2 separate regions of the Homo sapiens genome follow, and region 2 is linked to region 1. Evidence: fine-mapped expression QTL. Tissue or cell type: whole blood. Region 1 holds a variant in brackets; the other region holds the start of a gene. All regions are shown on one strand. Distances are between the middles of the regions.

Region 1 (8,106 bases):
TTCCCAAGTTATTAGAATAGTAACAGAATGGCATAAAACAGCATATCTTGTGTTATGATCCTGTTAAAAATTATAAGGCATTTAAGACTATAAGTGACTTCCACTCATCATGGCAAATTAAAGTCATGGCCCACTAGAAATGGGCTCTTGGTCCTCCTCATGTCTGACCTTCTTATTTTGCAAATAAAAAACTAAAGTCCAGAGATGAATAACTTGTCAGAGGTCACAAACTCAGTTAGAAGTGGTACCTACATCTGCTTGTAGCCAGAAGTTCCTTCATTCATTACTTTGCATGTATGCACATAGAAGAGGAAGAATTAATAATTTTTAAAATTAATAAAATGACCACAGTTCCACCCAAAGTTCACCTTATAAATGTATCTCCAAATTCCCTAACCCTAACCCTTATTTTTAATGCAAGCTCTCTTCAGGTAGAAATAGTCTAGAGACACTAGTGAGGACATTTGGAGGCATGAGGAAAACTCTTCAATCGTTAGTTATTACAACAGGACCTACTGAAAAAAAATTATGGCTTAAAATAATTACACATTTATTGATGGATATTTTCTTAATTACAGCTTCAGAATGGAGAACTTGAGTGTTTGGATTTTTTTTTCTTCAATTAAAACACAGAAAATAATGTTTTCAATCTCAAAGATGAGCATAAATGCATTAGGTTTGGAAAAGCTTACAGACCAGGTTCAGCCAAAAGTGAAATTTGATAGCTCCCTTGAATGCCTTCTTATTTGAGAGAAATGGGACACACCCTCAATTATGGCAAAATAAGCACAACCATTAATGTCATGCATGTTAATAAAAATTTTGGAGACTCCACAGAAAAGTTTATGATGTGTTTTCTAAACCACAGTATTTTGGCGATTGCTCAATAATTACAAGAGCCTGGGCCTTGCAGGACCCATTAGCTGTATCCAACATAAGCAGTGCATCCAGAGTTCTACAATGACGAGGGGGTAGGGAGGTTTTAAGAGCAAATAAACAAGGACACATAAAATCCCCAGAATGTCTCTTAAAGCCAAATTTCAAATCATTACCTCACATGGAAGAAAACATATGCATCCATATATATGTACCTAAAAAAATGTGTGTGTATGTACATATCATTTACTGCATCAGATATGCTGAGACCATACTGCATTATAAAGAGCACTAGAAAAAGAACTGCAGAACTTCTATTCTCGCGTGCATCTGCTACTAACAAATTACATGACCCTAGGCAGGGCAGGCCTCTCTGTGGGCCTCATTTTTCACCACTATTAAAGAAAGAGATTGCGTTCCATGATCACTAAGGTTTTCCTTTGAATATTTTTCTGACCCTGGGGGCTGTATTTAGAATTCTTGAAGCAAGAAATTAGCCACTTTTAAAGATTTGCTACTTTGACCTAGAAGTGTTCCCTGTTTTGTCCTTTGTTTTCCCATTAGAGAAGAGATTTAAATAAAAATGAAAGGAACTACTGTTGTTTTTCCAGACACAGTTTGTGTGTAATGAGGGAAGTGATTATCTCGGCAAAAGCACAGTTCCCTCATAAAGGTTCAAAATTAGCGCTTTTCCTCCCTCTAGTGGAAATGTAATGTATTTGATCTAAATTGAATTGGTTTCAGTATTTATCAAATTTTTAAAAAAAGAGAGAAAAAGAGTTGGCATATCTAAAACATAATCAGGGATTGAACCAAATGCAATTTGTTACAGGTTTTCCACACAAATGTCTTAAATATTTTACTTGTTTAAATAAATTCAAAATTAACAATGAAAAGCTGCAAAGTAGATTTAGATCAATTGAAGTTCTCCAAATGAAATAGACAAGTCCAGGCTGGGTGCGGTGGCTAACGCCTGAAATCCCAGCACTTTGGGAGGCCGAGGAGGGCGGATCACGAAGTCAAGAGATCAAAACCATCTTGGCCAACATAGTGATAATCCCATCTCTACTAAAAATACAAAAATTAGTCTGGCATGGTACCATGTGCCTGTAGTCCCAGCTACTCAAAAGGCTGAGGCAGGATAATCGCTTGAACCCGAGAGGCGGAGGTTGCAGTGAGCCAATATCGCACCACTGCACTCCAGCCTGGCGACAGAGCAAGATTCAGTCTAAAAAAAAAAAAGAAATACACAAGTCCACATTAGATGCTTGGTATTTAATTTATGCCCACATGCATCTGAAAATCAGTCCACGTATAAAAATTACTAGGTCAAAGCATGTCACTGAATAGGACAAGAAACACAGCACTAACAACATTAATAAGAAAGAAATGTTTACTCCATTGTAATTCGATCTAACATGTATGGTATCTGTTTTACATGAGGGTTTTCTGATTCCCTCTCTCTGAAACCTTTGTTAACTCCCTCAGGCAAAGTAAATCAGAATCAGACCAGGTTTGTCTGACCCACCTGTGCCAGGGTGGGCAGGACCACAGTGATGATCACCAGGTGTGTATGTCTGCCTCTCTATTGAGGGAGACTCTTCTTCTAATTATTTTTCTCTCCTTACAGTTGTAGAGCAACAGAGAGACATGGCGAATTGGAGAAATTGTGACTCCAAAGGTATTCCCATTCCATTGTCTAATAATCTGAACAGTTGTTTGTTTGTTGTAAGTAAAATCAAATAGCACCATGCTGGCTGAATTCAGTCTGCAAGCCACACCAAGGACAGCCTTGCTTAGCCCTGGAAGGCAGAGATTTTCCATGGAAGAGTTGTAACAAGATGTGTGCTTTAAAGCATGAAAAGAGTGAAAATGCAAAACCACACCTAAAAGGTTCTTAAAAATATCAAACATTCGACTGGGCACAGTGGCTCACACCCGTAATCCCAGCACTTTGGGAGGCCGAGGTGGGTGGATCACAAGGTCGGGAGTTTGAGACCAGCCTGACCAACATGGTGAAACCCCATCTCTACTGAAAATACACAAAAAATTAGCCAGGCATGGTGGCGTATGCCTGTAATCTCAGCTACTCGGGAGGCTGAGGCAGGAGAATGGCTTGAACCCGGGAGGCAGAGGTGGTTGCAGTGAGCCGAGATCATGCTACTGCACTCCAGCCTGGATGACAGAGTGAGACTCTGTCTCAAAAAAAAAAAAAAAAAAAGAGTGATTAGGTTACATACACAGATTAAGGAGGTTAGAGGTGTCTGCTGCAATAATCCAGAGGAAGTCTTCACTGGATGAGACAGAATGCTGTACACAAAGTGTTTAGTCTTCCCATGCATCGTGAGCAGTTGCCAAGGCACCAGAAAACCATGTCACCTGGAAGATGCAAATAAAATAAATAAACAAAGCCCCACCTTAGAGAAGATTGAAAGTTTGCAGGAATCACTGTAAGTGAAGCAATAATTAATAGTGGCAGAAAAATACGTACAGATATTGCATCCAAGAAAAAAATATTTTCAAAGAACCTTAAATAATGAGAAAAGAAAGATGAAAAAAAGGAAGGAGGAAAAGAAGAAATGCAGGGAGAGAATGCAGAGGAGGAGTAAATGGAGGAGGGAAGAAAAGAAAGAGTAAAGAAGGGAGGAAGGAAGAGAGGAAAAAAGAAAAGGAAGACAGAAAGGAAAGAAGAAAAGGGGGGAAAGGAGGGGCTTTGGAATTTAGAAACTTGATAGCAGAAATGAAAATCTTAGTAGAAGATTTAAACACAAAGTTAAAGAAATCTTACAAAATAAAGATATAAAAAGTCACATATGAGGGAAAGATAGGGTGGTTTTGCTTGTTTAAAATACTACACTAGGGACTTTTGTGTCTTGACAAGATGGAGTAATAGAAAGCTTTATCCCCCAACATGAAGAAACCAAATAATCAGACAAGGTTATGAAACAATAGTAACAACTGAAAATGTCCCTGTGACCAGAGAGAAATGAGGTGAGCCCTACAAGTGCCTGAGCACACTGACTTCTGGGAGTTTGCAGACTGAAAGATTAAACAGGAAGAATCCAACAGTCTCCCTGAGTAGAGGGATAGAGCTGGGAGTCCCAGGAGACCAAGGCAGTTGGAGCTAGAGATGCACAGAGAGAATGTTTGAGTTCTATAGAGAGTCTTCCTTGATCATTGAACCGTGAGAGTGAGAAATGCTACCTAAGGCCAGGTGAAGAAAATTCCAAAAAGATTAGAGGAACTAGAACCCAGGGTCAGGGTCAGACACTGCCTGGTGTCTGTTCTTACTAGCCAGACTATACAACTTTATAGTCCATTAGGTTGATCCATTGCAATTGAGCACTACAAAAGATTAGTGAACTTGAACACACAGCAATAGAAACTACCCAGAAAAAAACACAGGGCAAAAAAGACTGCAAAAAAATAAATAAAAGACCATCGGTGAGTTGTGGGGCAGCTTCAGTCAACTAATACATATGTAATTAGAATCCCCAGGGAGAAAAGAGAGAAGTGACAGAAAAACTATTTGAGCTTTTTTCTTTTTCAAAATTTAATGTAAACTATAAATCCACAGATCAAACACAGATTCAAGCACATGAATAACTGTACACCAAAGCACATCATAATCAAATGATTCAAACCAGAGGAAAAGAAAAAAAGCAGCCCAGAAATGATACAGGTTACATAGAGAGTAACAACCAGAAGGGGACAGCAGATTTCCCATCAGAGATAATGCAAGTGGGAAGACATTGGAGCAACATTGTTAAAGTACTAAAAGAAATAAACAAACAAACTCTGCAACCTAGAATGCTACACGAAGGGAAAATCTCTCTCAAAAACTAAGGTAAAATATAGACTTTTCTACATATACAAGAGCTGAAAGAATTCATCACCCACCAGCAGACTCACCGTAAGAAATGTTAAAGAAAGTCATTCAGAAGAAGAAAAAATATTAGACGGAAATAGAGATTTACACAAAAACATGAAAAACAACAGAAAGTGTTGCACACGGTGCCCAGAGCAGTTTATTTGCAACAGGTAAAATCTGGGACCAACCCAGGTTAAGGACAACATGTCCAGAAGATGAAATACTACTCAACAAAATT[A/G]AAAAAGAAATATAGAGGATGGAATAAATCATTGATCCACAAACCAACATGTATGAATCTCAAAATAATTTTGCTGCTAATTGAAGAAAGTCTAATAAAAATGGCACAAACTGTATGATTCCATTTATCTAAAATTCTAGAAAATAAAAACTAATTTTCTGTACAGTTAGACCTGTGTTTTCCTGGGAATAAAAAGGTCAGGGAGGAGGGCAGAAGGGTGGGATTGCAAAAAGACCCAAGGACATTTCTAGAGGTAATATTACAGTTTGCTGTCTCTACTGTGGTGATGGTTTCATGAGATTATACATATGTCAAAATTAATTAACTTGTACATTTTAAATGTGTGTACTTTTCTGCAAGCTATTCATACCTCGATAAAGCTGCTAAAGATGGCATTTCTAATTTTCCATGCTGTTGTAGAAAATAGGGAAAATTTTTAAGATGTTAAAAAAGTCACAGATTATCACTGAGAAAAAATGTATTTTTGATAATTTACATCTTCTTAGGTGCTCAGCATTCTGCTTAGCATTATATTAAAAGGATTTATCTCAATGTATTTAACCAGTGTGTATTACAAATAAACACATTATACACATACATAAATATATTCTGATTATTTAAAGATAATAGTTATAATAAAACCTTTTTATGTGTACCACTGATTATTTTCTTGGTGTATGTTCCAAAATGATCCACGTGTCCAAACACTTTTAAGATACTATATAATTGCTCCTAGAAAAGAGATTTTACAGAGAGAAGGATCAGCACAAAAGGAGATTAGTCTAGTCTAAGAAAAAAATAAACAAAACCAGGCATGTACCACTGAGGAAGGAAGACAATGGAGAAGTGCTATGTCTGCTTCACAGCTGTTTCCCTGAGTGGGTAGACTGTTTGAGATAGAACACCAGGCACTTTCATTCCCAGGCCTATTCTATTAATACTTTTGCATACGTGAAGACTGACTGAGCCTCCTACTTACTAATAGAAGTGCTTGCTGTGCTTAGGGAAAATTTATTTTAACTTAAAGGACATTGCAGTAATCTGCTCAGGCTGCCATAAGAAAATACCACAGGCTAGTGGCTTAAACAGAAATTTCTCACGAGGTGGGCATGGTGGCTCACAACTGCCATCCCAGCAACTCAGGATCCTGAGGTGGGAGGATTGCTTAAGCCCAGGAGTTTGAGGCTGCAGTGAGCTATTTCAGCCTGGGAAATAGAGAACCATCCCAATAAGAAGAAAGAAAAGAAAAAGAGAGAGAAAGAAAGAGAGGGAGGGAGAAAGAAACAGAAAGAAAGAGAAAGGAAGAAAGAGAAAAGAAGGAAAGGAAAGGGGAAAGGAAAACAGAAAGGGAAGGGAAAGGGAAAGGGAAAGAGAAAGAGAAAGAGAAAGAGAAAGAGAAAGAGAAAGAGAAAGAGAGAAAGGGAAAGAGAAAGAGAAAGAGAAAGAGAAAGAGAAAGAGAAAGAATTTATTTCTCACATTTCTGGATGCTAGGAAGTCCAAGATCAAGGTGCCAGCCAGGTAGGATTCATTTTAAGCCCTCTTTTCTTGGCTCATGGGAGGCCACCATCTCACAATGTGCCCATATAACCTCTTCTTTATGCAGACGCAAGGAGGCAAGGGCAGGGAGGGGAAGAGAGAGAGTGCACGCATGGAAGGGAGAGAACACTTTTGTGTCTGTTCTTATAAAGACACAAATCCTATTGGATCAGGACCCAACCCTTGTGACCTCAGTAATCTTAATTACTTCCTTAGAGGTCCATCTCCAAATGCAGCCACTCTAGGGGATAGGAATTCAACATAAGAATTTGGAGGTGGGGGGACACAAACATTCAGTCCATAACAAACATTCAACTGTTTGAGTAATTCAGAGTGGGGCTCAAAATGTAAAACATTTTGATGAATCACGTTAATTGTCATGTTGATAATGTGCCACATCATACATTTTAATGTAGCATTATTTGTGATTAATTCTCTTACCTTTGTTTTTTTTTTAAATGTCAGTACTTCACCTTATTTCGCACATTTTTACTGTACATAGAATTCTATGTTGGTATATTTTTCTTTCAGTACTTTAAAGATCTTGTTGCACTCTCTTGCCCATAGTTTCTAATATAAAGTCAGCAATAACTTACATCTTTGTTTTCATATAAATATTTATAATGTATTTTTTCTTCAGCTGCTTTCAAGATTTTATCTTTGGTTTAAGTGTTTAGATGAGTGCATTAATTTTCTAGTTATGCTGTGACAGAATACTCAAAACTGGGCCGCTTTAAACAACAGAGATTTATTTTTTCACAGTTCCAAAAACTAGAAGTCCAAAATCAAGGTGTCTTCCCTCTGAGACTCTGAATAGAATCCTTCCTTACCTCTTCCATCTTTTGGTAGTGATGATCATATTTTGGTGTTCCTGGCTTTCAGCTGCATCAGTCCAATCTCTACCTCTATCATCACATGACATTGTGTCTCATGTCTCTGTCTCATCTTCCCTTCTTATTATGAAGACACTAGTCATAATGGATTAAGGTTCACTCTAATCCAATATGATGTCATCTTAACTTGATTACATCTGCAGCAACCATATTTCCAAATAATGTCACATTCTGAAGTTCCAGAAAGGACATCAGTTTTAGAAGGTCACTGTCCAATACAACTATGATATGCCTAGGCATTGTTTTCTTTGGATTTACAATGATGGGGGTTCACTGAGATGTTTTGAATCTGTAAATTTATGTTTCACTATATTGGAGAAACATTTTGTGAAAACATTTACCCATAAAAGGGGAAATATGGTTCCTTCACATTTAAAAAACATTTCATTCTCATTCTCTTTTCATTCTAGAATTCCAATTAGACGTATGTTAGATCTTTTCATATTGTATCACAAATCTCCAATGCTTTGTTTATATTTTGGAGCAGATAATTTCCACTAATCTATCCTCAAGTATATGGACTCTTCCCTTTGTCAATTCTATTACACCGCTAAAGCCATCCAGTGATGGCTTTTAATTTCAGCTGTTGTAATTTTCAGTTCTATAATTTCCATTTGATACCTTTTTAGAGTTTCCACTTCTCCACGAGCTTTCCTATCTTTTCATTTATGACATGCATATCCTTTACATC
Region 2 (8,106 bases), 62 kb before region 1:
ATGTTAAAAATTTACTCCCTGAAATGAGTGTGCTCAAATACAACTTGGTAATATAGGCTAACGTGCTTTCCAAGTTTATTCACATGCAAGTTTATTCACTATATTTTGAAACTATTTATTTTCTTTTAAAGGAAATCACTGCCTGAAAGATATCTCTGGAGTCAGGAGCCTCTGCTTTCTGCATTGAGAAGTCCAGGCTGCATATCGGCAAGAAGAATCAACCAAGCCAACAGGCACACCTGGCGGCGTCACCCTCCAACGTAGATGTTTCGACACCAAGCACTTCAACAGCCCCAGTAGCTTCCTCCTCAGCTTACTGATACTTGAAGATTTTTGTTTAGGGTTCATTTCTAGACCAGGTAAAATGACAAATTCAGTTCCACCAATGGTGTCTGGCTGTGCCTACCACAAAGCCTCTCACTTCAGAAAGGCCTCCGCCCAGGCTTGGATCCCAACTCTCTTCCAGGGTCTGGGGCAGTGGAGCAGCCCCCACCAGCTCTGTTAAAAGCCTTCGGGCAAATGGAGCTGCCCTTTCCTTTCCTGTTTAGTATCAAGGTCACCGAATGGGAGCATCCGGCAGACCTAGGCAGCCTCAGACTTTCTGAGACTCGATTACAAAGCCTACTTTTTATGGGAGTCGGTTTCAAACATCTGTTAAGATTGGGCAGGATAAGAGAAAACCCATCTTTATGAAATTTTTTTTTTTGAGATGGAGTCTCTCTCTGTCACCCAGGCTGGAGTGCAGTGGTGCGATCTCGGCTCACTGCAACCTCCACCTCCCAGGTTTTAGCGATTCTCCTGCCTCAGCCTCCCGAGTAGTTGGGATTACAGGCACGTGCCACCATGCTCAGCTAATTTTTTGTATGTTTAGTAGAGATGGGGTTTCACCGTGTTAGCCAGGATGGTCTCAATCTGCTGACCTCGTGATCCACCCACCTCGGCCTCCCAAAGTGCTGGGATTACAGGCATGAGCCACCACGCCTGGCCCAAAATCATTTATTAAATTTTTTTTAAGGTAAACATGTCATAAATGAGGCAAACATTTAAAAATGTGTAAAATGCATTCATTGTAGAAGACGGACCTGTCTCTCTCAATTGAAATTAAGCAAACAGTGATCTTCGCTGGCTACCGAATTGTTTGGAAATCCTTCATGATGTTATCCCTCATATCTAATGCCCTTATTCTTTAGATAATTAAAACATTGCAGTAGGAAGAGGATCAAGATGCAGTGATGCAAACACAACTTTGCAACGGGAATTCAGAAGACTGGATTTTTGTCTGATCTGGGGACAACGGGTGGTCCCAGGAGAAACCCTGACCTTTCTTTGTCTCAATTTACATTTCTGAAAGATTAGGGAATTTTGAACATTTTAAATGTTTATATCTTATATAACACTAACTGATCATTGCTTTCATTTAGACAAAACCAAAATGGCAGCCAGGTTATTGCCAGTGACACATTTGAAGTTGTAGGACCTTAAGGTTCCAGAGTTCCTGCCTCTTTTCGCTAACCTCATCTCATTTCACTTTCAACTGCAGGCTTGTGAAAATTAAGCAAAACCAAACCAAAACACAAGCTCTATGTGCTATGGATAGAAACTGCTGGAAGAGTTATAAATTTTTTTTTCTTTTTATATTATACTTTAAGTTCTGGGATACATGTGCAGAACATGCAGGTTTGTTACATGAGTATACACGTGTCATGGTGGTTTGCTGCACCCGTCAACCCCTCATCTACATTAGTTATTTCTCCTAATGCTATTCCTCCCCTAGCCCCGCCACCCGCCAACAGGCCCCAGTGTGTGATATTCCCTCCCTGTGTCCACGTGTTCTCATTGTTCAACTGCCACTTATGAGTGAGACTATGCGGTGTTTGAAGAGGTATAAAATGTAAAGACAGCTCTACGGTGTGGCCCAGAAGCTGTGCTTCTCACAGGTTCCCAGGCGGTGCTGGGGACGCTGGCCCAGGGTCTCCACTCGGAATCACTGCCATCAGGTGTCTCATTCTAACGCTAATTCAAAATTATTAAGGGCCACTGTGGGCCTTCTAACATATTCCCTTTTTTGAAAGAGTTCTCTGAAACTGAAACCTAACTAAGACTCTGAACTAAAGTTAGGAACTCATTTTTACTGATTAAAAAAAAAAAAAAAAAAGAAAGAAAAAAAAACTATAGCCCTCGCTAATATTGCTTCTAAATAGCAGGGCAGACAGGCAGTCTGGGCGCACCCAGTCATGATGGTGTCACTCGCCCTTCCCCAAATCCCCATCAGGATGAATCAAGGCAACATGACCCTCTGGGAACATTCCCCAGGCCCTTCCCCCAGTATGGCTTCTGGGAGCAACTGTGGGGCCAGGGGGTTTCCCAAAAGCCAGCTTTCCCATGACAAAAGTGCACAGAACATGCCCCACCCTTCAGTTCCTACGTCCTTGGAAGCACCAAGCAAGTCATACAAAGTCGTGGAATCACAGAGGATGGATTCACATAGGACGTTTCTAGTAAAACAGTGCAAGCTTCTCCTTGGCCAAAACCAGAGGGCTTCCTTCTGATGCCCCAAGTGGTGCTTGGGTCCCTGGCCAGGGAAACAGTTCACTCTCCCAGTACCTGCCCTTGTGCATTTGTCATAGGATTAGAAATGAGTAGCCAGCATGCTCATGGCCGTGTATTACAGCATAAATATTCAGAAACTTGCTTTAGACATCACTTACAGATTCTTTCCTGAAACTTCACATAGAACGTACAGAAACACAAGTATTGTGTGAAGCAGTTGTGGGGCCAGGGAGGTGCCCGGGCTTTGAGGGCACGTAGCCTTTGCCATGCAATAGCTTCTGGAATTACACGCATGGCCTGCTCCCCAGCTTCCCCACCAGCAGGGACTGGGGCGTGGACCGGGGATGGAGACTGGGGGTGGGGGTCCACCTGTGGACCTCCGATAGGAGGGAGCTGCTTGGCCCTTCTCTGGCCCATCTCTGGCAGGCAGTTGCTGGACAAACTGCAGAGGTCTCCACCTGCAGCATCCAAGGCACACAGGCTCTTCATAAAAATCCCTTTCTCCTGTCCCCTTCCAATTGGTGGCAGCTGCCACTCAGCATCTTTGGTTTTAAACAGTGAAATGGCTTCCCAGATGTCAGGGGGGAAAATCAGTGCAAGGCCTAGACTCGGAATTCCAAGTCGCCCCATCCAGATAGCTGCACCGAGAAGAGAGAAGACACAGGACCGTTTTGTCGTTTTCATTTCCGTTTTCTTTTACTAGGAAATTGAAATCGGGTTTCTGGTCTCCGCACTACGGGCTCAGAGGGTTCTTTGGTGTTGGGGAGGCATCGAGCCTTTGGTGCTGCACACACCCTAAACCCTGGCTCCACCCGTAGATGCCAAGAGCCCCCTCCAGCTGCGATCGCCAAAAATGTTTCCAGACTTTCCACCTACCTCCAGGGGCAAAATCACCTAGGATGAGAACCACATAATTCAGGGGCGTCCAGTCTTTTGGCTTCCCTGGGCCACATTGGAAGAAGAATTATTGTCTTGGGCCACACATAAAATACACCACACTAGCAATAGCTGATGAGCTAAAGAAAATCATAGCTGAGAAATCTCAATGTTTTTAAAAGGTTTACAAATTTGGGTTGGGCTGCATTCAAAGCCACCCCAGGCCACATGGGCTGCAGGTTGGACAAGTTTGAAATAAGTTATGCTATGGCAAACAATAAGCTGATATTATACAAATATTTTACTTACAAAAAAATAACTACCATAAAAAGATGTACGTGGAGGCGTGTGTGTGTGTGTGTTGGGTTGTGTGGGAAGGGGTGTGAGCATATGTGTGTGTTGAATGTGGGTGTGTGTGTGTTGGGTTGTGTGGGAAAGGGTGTGAGCAAGTGTGTGTGTTGAATGTGGGTGTGTGTGTGTTGGGTTGTGTGGGAAGGGGTGTGAGCATGCGTGTGTGTTGAATGTGGGGGTGTGTGTGTTGGATTGTGTGGGAAGGGGTGTGAGCAAGTGTGTGTGTTGAATGTGGGTATGTGTGTGTTGTGTGGGATATAAGTCTGTGTAATGTGTGTTACATATGATGCATGTGTTTATGTGTGTAGTGTGGGTGTTGGTGTGTGTGTATGTATGTATCTGTGTGTTTACATCTGTGGTGTATGTGTATGCATGTTTGTGTAGTGTGTGTTAGTGTCTGTGTATGTGTGTGGTATCTGTGTATTTTTGTGTGTAGTGTATGTGTGTGCATGTTTGTGTAGTGTGTGTTAGTGTCTGTGTATGTGTGTGGTATTGTGTGTTTATGTGTGTGGTGTATGTGTGTGCATGTTTGTGTGTGGCATGTGTTGGTGTGTGGCATTTGTGTGTTTATATGTGTGTTGTGTGTATGCATGTCTGTGTGTATATGTGTGGTGTCTGTGTGTTTCTGTGTGTGGAATATGTGTATGCATGTTTGTGTGTTGCATGGTGTGTGTATGTATGTGTGTGATATCTCTGTGTTTGTGTGTGTGGTGTCTGTGTATTCATTTTGTGTGTGTGGTGTGCACGTGTGTGGCATGCGTGTGTTTAAGTGTGTGATATATACATACACACGTGTGTGTTTATGTGTGTGGTGTATGTGTATTCATTCTGTGTGTGTGGTGTGCATGTGTGTGGCATATGTGTGTGTACGTGTGTGGTATATACATACACACATTTATGGATGGGGGTGTGTGTGTGTTGTGTGGGATATAAGTCTGATGAGGTAAAGAAGCTCCAGGAGATTCTCTTTGGTTGAATCTCATGCCATGAGACTTGGCTTCTGGCCACGATGGAGTGAGAAGCCTGGACTGACCTTTCTGCCTGGAGCAAGGGAACACCGTGTAGAACCGGCACGGCGCATCTTCCAGACGGCAGTGCCCAGGCTGCTTGGCAGGCACCCCTGCAGGAGGGGTCAGGGAGGTGGGCACCCAGCGGTCCCTCAGCACCCGTCCCGTGTGGCACAGTCCAGCCGCCTCCCAGGGCCGAGGAGGGGAGACGCAGGCTCCTGGGCTGCTCCCACCCAGGCCCCTGGAACAGCGCATCTTCTGTGACCGTGGTGAAGGAAAATCTCAGCCTCTGCTTCCCACCTCCTCAGCCCCTGCCTCAACAGGAAGCCCACAGCGCAAGAGACGCCATTCTAGGGCCAGGAAGGAAGAGCCTCAGACCCTGGAATTGCCATGTACAAACTAGACGTGTATTTATGGTGTGTCTGAATGTACAACAATTTCCTGTTTCGGAGAAAATAGTTCCTTCCTGGAAGGGCTGTTCTGTATTTGCACACTTTTCCCATGTGATTTTGGGGAAAAGTACCTGACTTTCTGTGAATAGACGCACTTTTTCTTACCGAAAATAATGATAGTTTCAATCTGGCTATAATCGTTCATATTCATGATTTTTTTCGGATGTAGAAATCAGCAGTTTTGCATTGTAAGACCTCACCCATCCACCACTCACCGTCCCCACACCCCTGGGAACAGGAGGAACCTCACAGAAGAAGAAGGTGGATTTTACTACCTACTTGCCACACCTCAATCTCTCTGTCTGTAAGCAGAGAGAATACGGTAATAATAATATTAATAATGATAATAATAATACCTTTCTCACAAGTTCGCAGGGAGGGATGAGTTCATGCACATAAAATGCTCAGCCCAGCACAGCTGAGCACACGATTCTCAGCACTATTACTTGCATTCTTGTCACTGAAAGGAAGAGGGAACGGAGTGTGACAGCGCAGGTTAGACCCCCGGCGCAGCCATCCACCTGCCACTTTGTCACAGGGACTCCACGACTAACTGCCGCCCTATTTTCCCATAAGCAGGCAATGGTGATGATAAAATCATTCTCAAAGCTTAGGGAGGCCAGGACCCAACCCAGGGCCGATCAACGCAAAGCCCTTGCTGCTTCCTATCCCATAAAACCCAATTATTTATGAATGTGAACCTAAAGCCGCATCCTAATTTAGAAGGCATGGAGATAACATGGCCAAGCAGCCGCCTCTCCAGGCAGCGAGATGACTAGGTAGGTCCCAGAGCCCTGAGCATGTCCCCTAGAAAACAACTCAAGACAAGTGCATTTGCATGCCTTCTTCTGTCTCTCTGAAATCACTCAGTTATAGTCACTCAGTGTGTGCTCACAAACACTGAGTCTCCCCTACACGTGATGCATTTCAGTACCAGGGCAATTCGAGTGAGAAACATGGCCATAGCCCCCAGCCTCTTGGACTATCAGAACTCTTAGGAAGTACAAGGATTGAAATATGTGGTCTAACAGCAGAGCGGTATTTTTCTCATTGTACCACCTTGTTGTAAAAAATTGCTGGAGCCTGAAGGAAACCACCTATGGGAAGGGTGTGAGTCAATGGTTCCCCACTTCTGCAGAGTTCCTTCTGAGCAGCTCAGAGCCCACCCCGTGTGGACACATCTCTTACCAAGATGACCTTCCCCTAGCGGGAAACGGAGGAATGAGCAGGCGGCACTCACAGTGCCAATTACAGCAAGGGGATTTGCATAGGAGACCTAACTGCCTGTTTCAATTAGGAGCAGCAACTCCCTCCTTCTTCCTTCCCAAGGAGCCAGGAACACCAGGCATGTGGGTTTGGATTTGTCTGGGAGGAGGCATGACTGTGCGCACCAGAGTGAAAGCCTCCCCACTCACACTGCTCACCTGGAGAGAGGCTCAGGGATCCTGGCAGGCGCAATGTTTGAGAAATGCCCAGGCGAAGAAGATGAATGCTTCCTTTCACCGGGCCCTCCCTGGCTTTAACTCTTCTTAGTCCTGTCTCTGGGAGACCCTGGCAGCCCCTCGCAGCTGTGACCTCTCTAAACTGTCAGCCTCAGATTAACTGATACTTCATCAATTTTGCCTGAACTGCATTTGCAACCCGGTCTCAAGAGGACAGCCAAGTGCATCAACGCTGGGCATTAACCCCCCAGAACCAGATTGCCTTCAAAACGAGGGGGACTTTTCCAATATTCTCACAGCGGCCCGGGCAACAAGCCTAGGGGGACTTTGGCCAGAGGGGAGAGAAGGGGCCTCTGATTATTCCTTGTAAATTTTTCATGAGGACATCTGCCCATACTCTGCGCCTCCTCCAGAGCTGCCCTCTCTCTCTCTCTCCCTTCCTCTGTCTCTGTGTTCAGGCCTCTGACAAGGCATGAAAAACGAGAATGATTGGGCCTCAGTCCCCATTAGCCAGGAAGTGACTGATGGGAGGATGGGCGTGTGTGGTGACTTCAGGCTTGGGAGGGGCCGGGGCTGCCGGGTTTTGAAACAAAAGACCAGTCAGGAATGGATGAGTCCTAGGTGGATCTGCAGATGGAGGCTGTGCTGTGAGTAGGTGGCTAAGGTGCACAGATGGTCATGGCTGATAGGCCAGCCTGGCCCGGGCTCCTGGTTCTGCAGACCCCAGCTCTGGGCTGGAAAATCGGTCCCCGCCTCCCCCATCTTCCCCAAGATTGTCCCCGTCCTTCCTCGGGCAGACCTTCACCGTGGAGCAGAAAGCTGCCTACAATATCGCCCAAATCAAAGCCAAGAAGAATTAGAGTGTAGGGACAGGGGAACAGGGAAGTGCTTTTTTAATTTAAATAATAAAAAATAAAAAATAGTCATTCTTTTGGAAATACTAGCAGCTTACAAGCTTTAAAATCCTCTTTCCCAACAGTTTAAATCAAAAGCCAGCAGCCCTTTCTCATGGATGCATCAAATCATGCAGATGTCCTTTTTGTGCCCCCTTTAAGGTGACATGTGCTTCAATTTATTTTTAATCTTCTAAGTGATGTCATCAGGACGCCGCCCGGGTGACACGGGAGGTGGCTGCTCCTGGGGCTGTGGGTCTGGGCAGTGCAAGCTCCACGCGCACTGACCCCATGGGCTCAACCCAGAGTCCACAGTCAGAAACCGGCCCCGGGCGGCAGGAGACGCTGCAGAGGGAGATTCCATAGAAGAGGTAAATTCATTAAGAAACTCATCACCGAGCACACCTTAGAAATCCCACCTTTTGTGCTCAACGTGGCCGGGTCCCCGGGGACGCCGTTGGCAGCTCTCCATGGAGCAACAGTGCCACCCAGTGGTCAGTCCTCGCGATGCCGCCGCCCGCTCCCCTGTGCGGTC

The links. PIP is the estimated chance that this variant, and not a neighbour inherited with it, causes the effect.
Region 2: LINC00487 starts here. The variant in region 1 is fine-mapped to the expression of LINC00487 in whole blood (TOPMed, PIP above 0.99).

What each region holds. Positions count from the first base shown.
Region 1 is chr2:6,826,852-6,834,957 of GRCh38, forward strand. NRIR (negative regulator of interferon response) reads right to left here. Exons shown (of 4, transcript NR_126359.1): 2 at 6,463-6,579; 3 at 3,117-3,255; 4 at 1,703-2,104. Among named protein-coding and RNA genes, the nearest start is that of NRIR, 9.6 kb to the right of the region's middle. The variant A/G (reference allele first, on the strand shown) is at 4,986.
Region 2 is chr2:6,765,269-6,773,374 of GRCh38, forward strand. It overlaps LINC00487 (long intergenic non-protein coding RNA 487), which reads right to left and starts at 5,043. Exons shown (of 6, transcript NR_038369.1): 1 at 4,811-5,043. LOC105373404 (a long non-coding RNA gene) reads right to left here. Exons shown (of 4, transcript XR_922745.3): 4 at 7,555-8,106. RefSeq lists an enhancer at 7,899-8,106.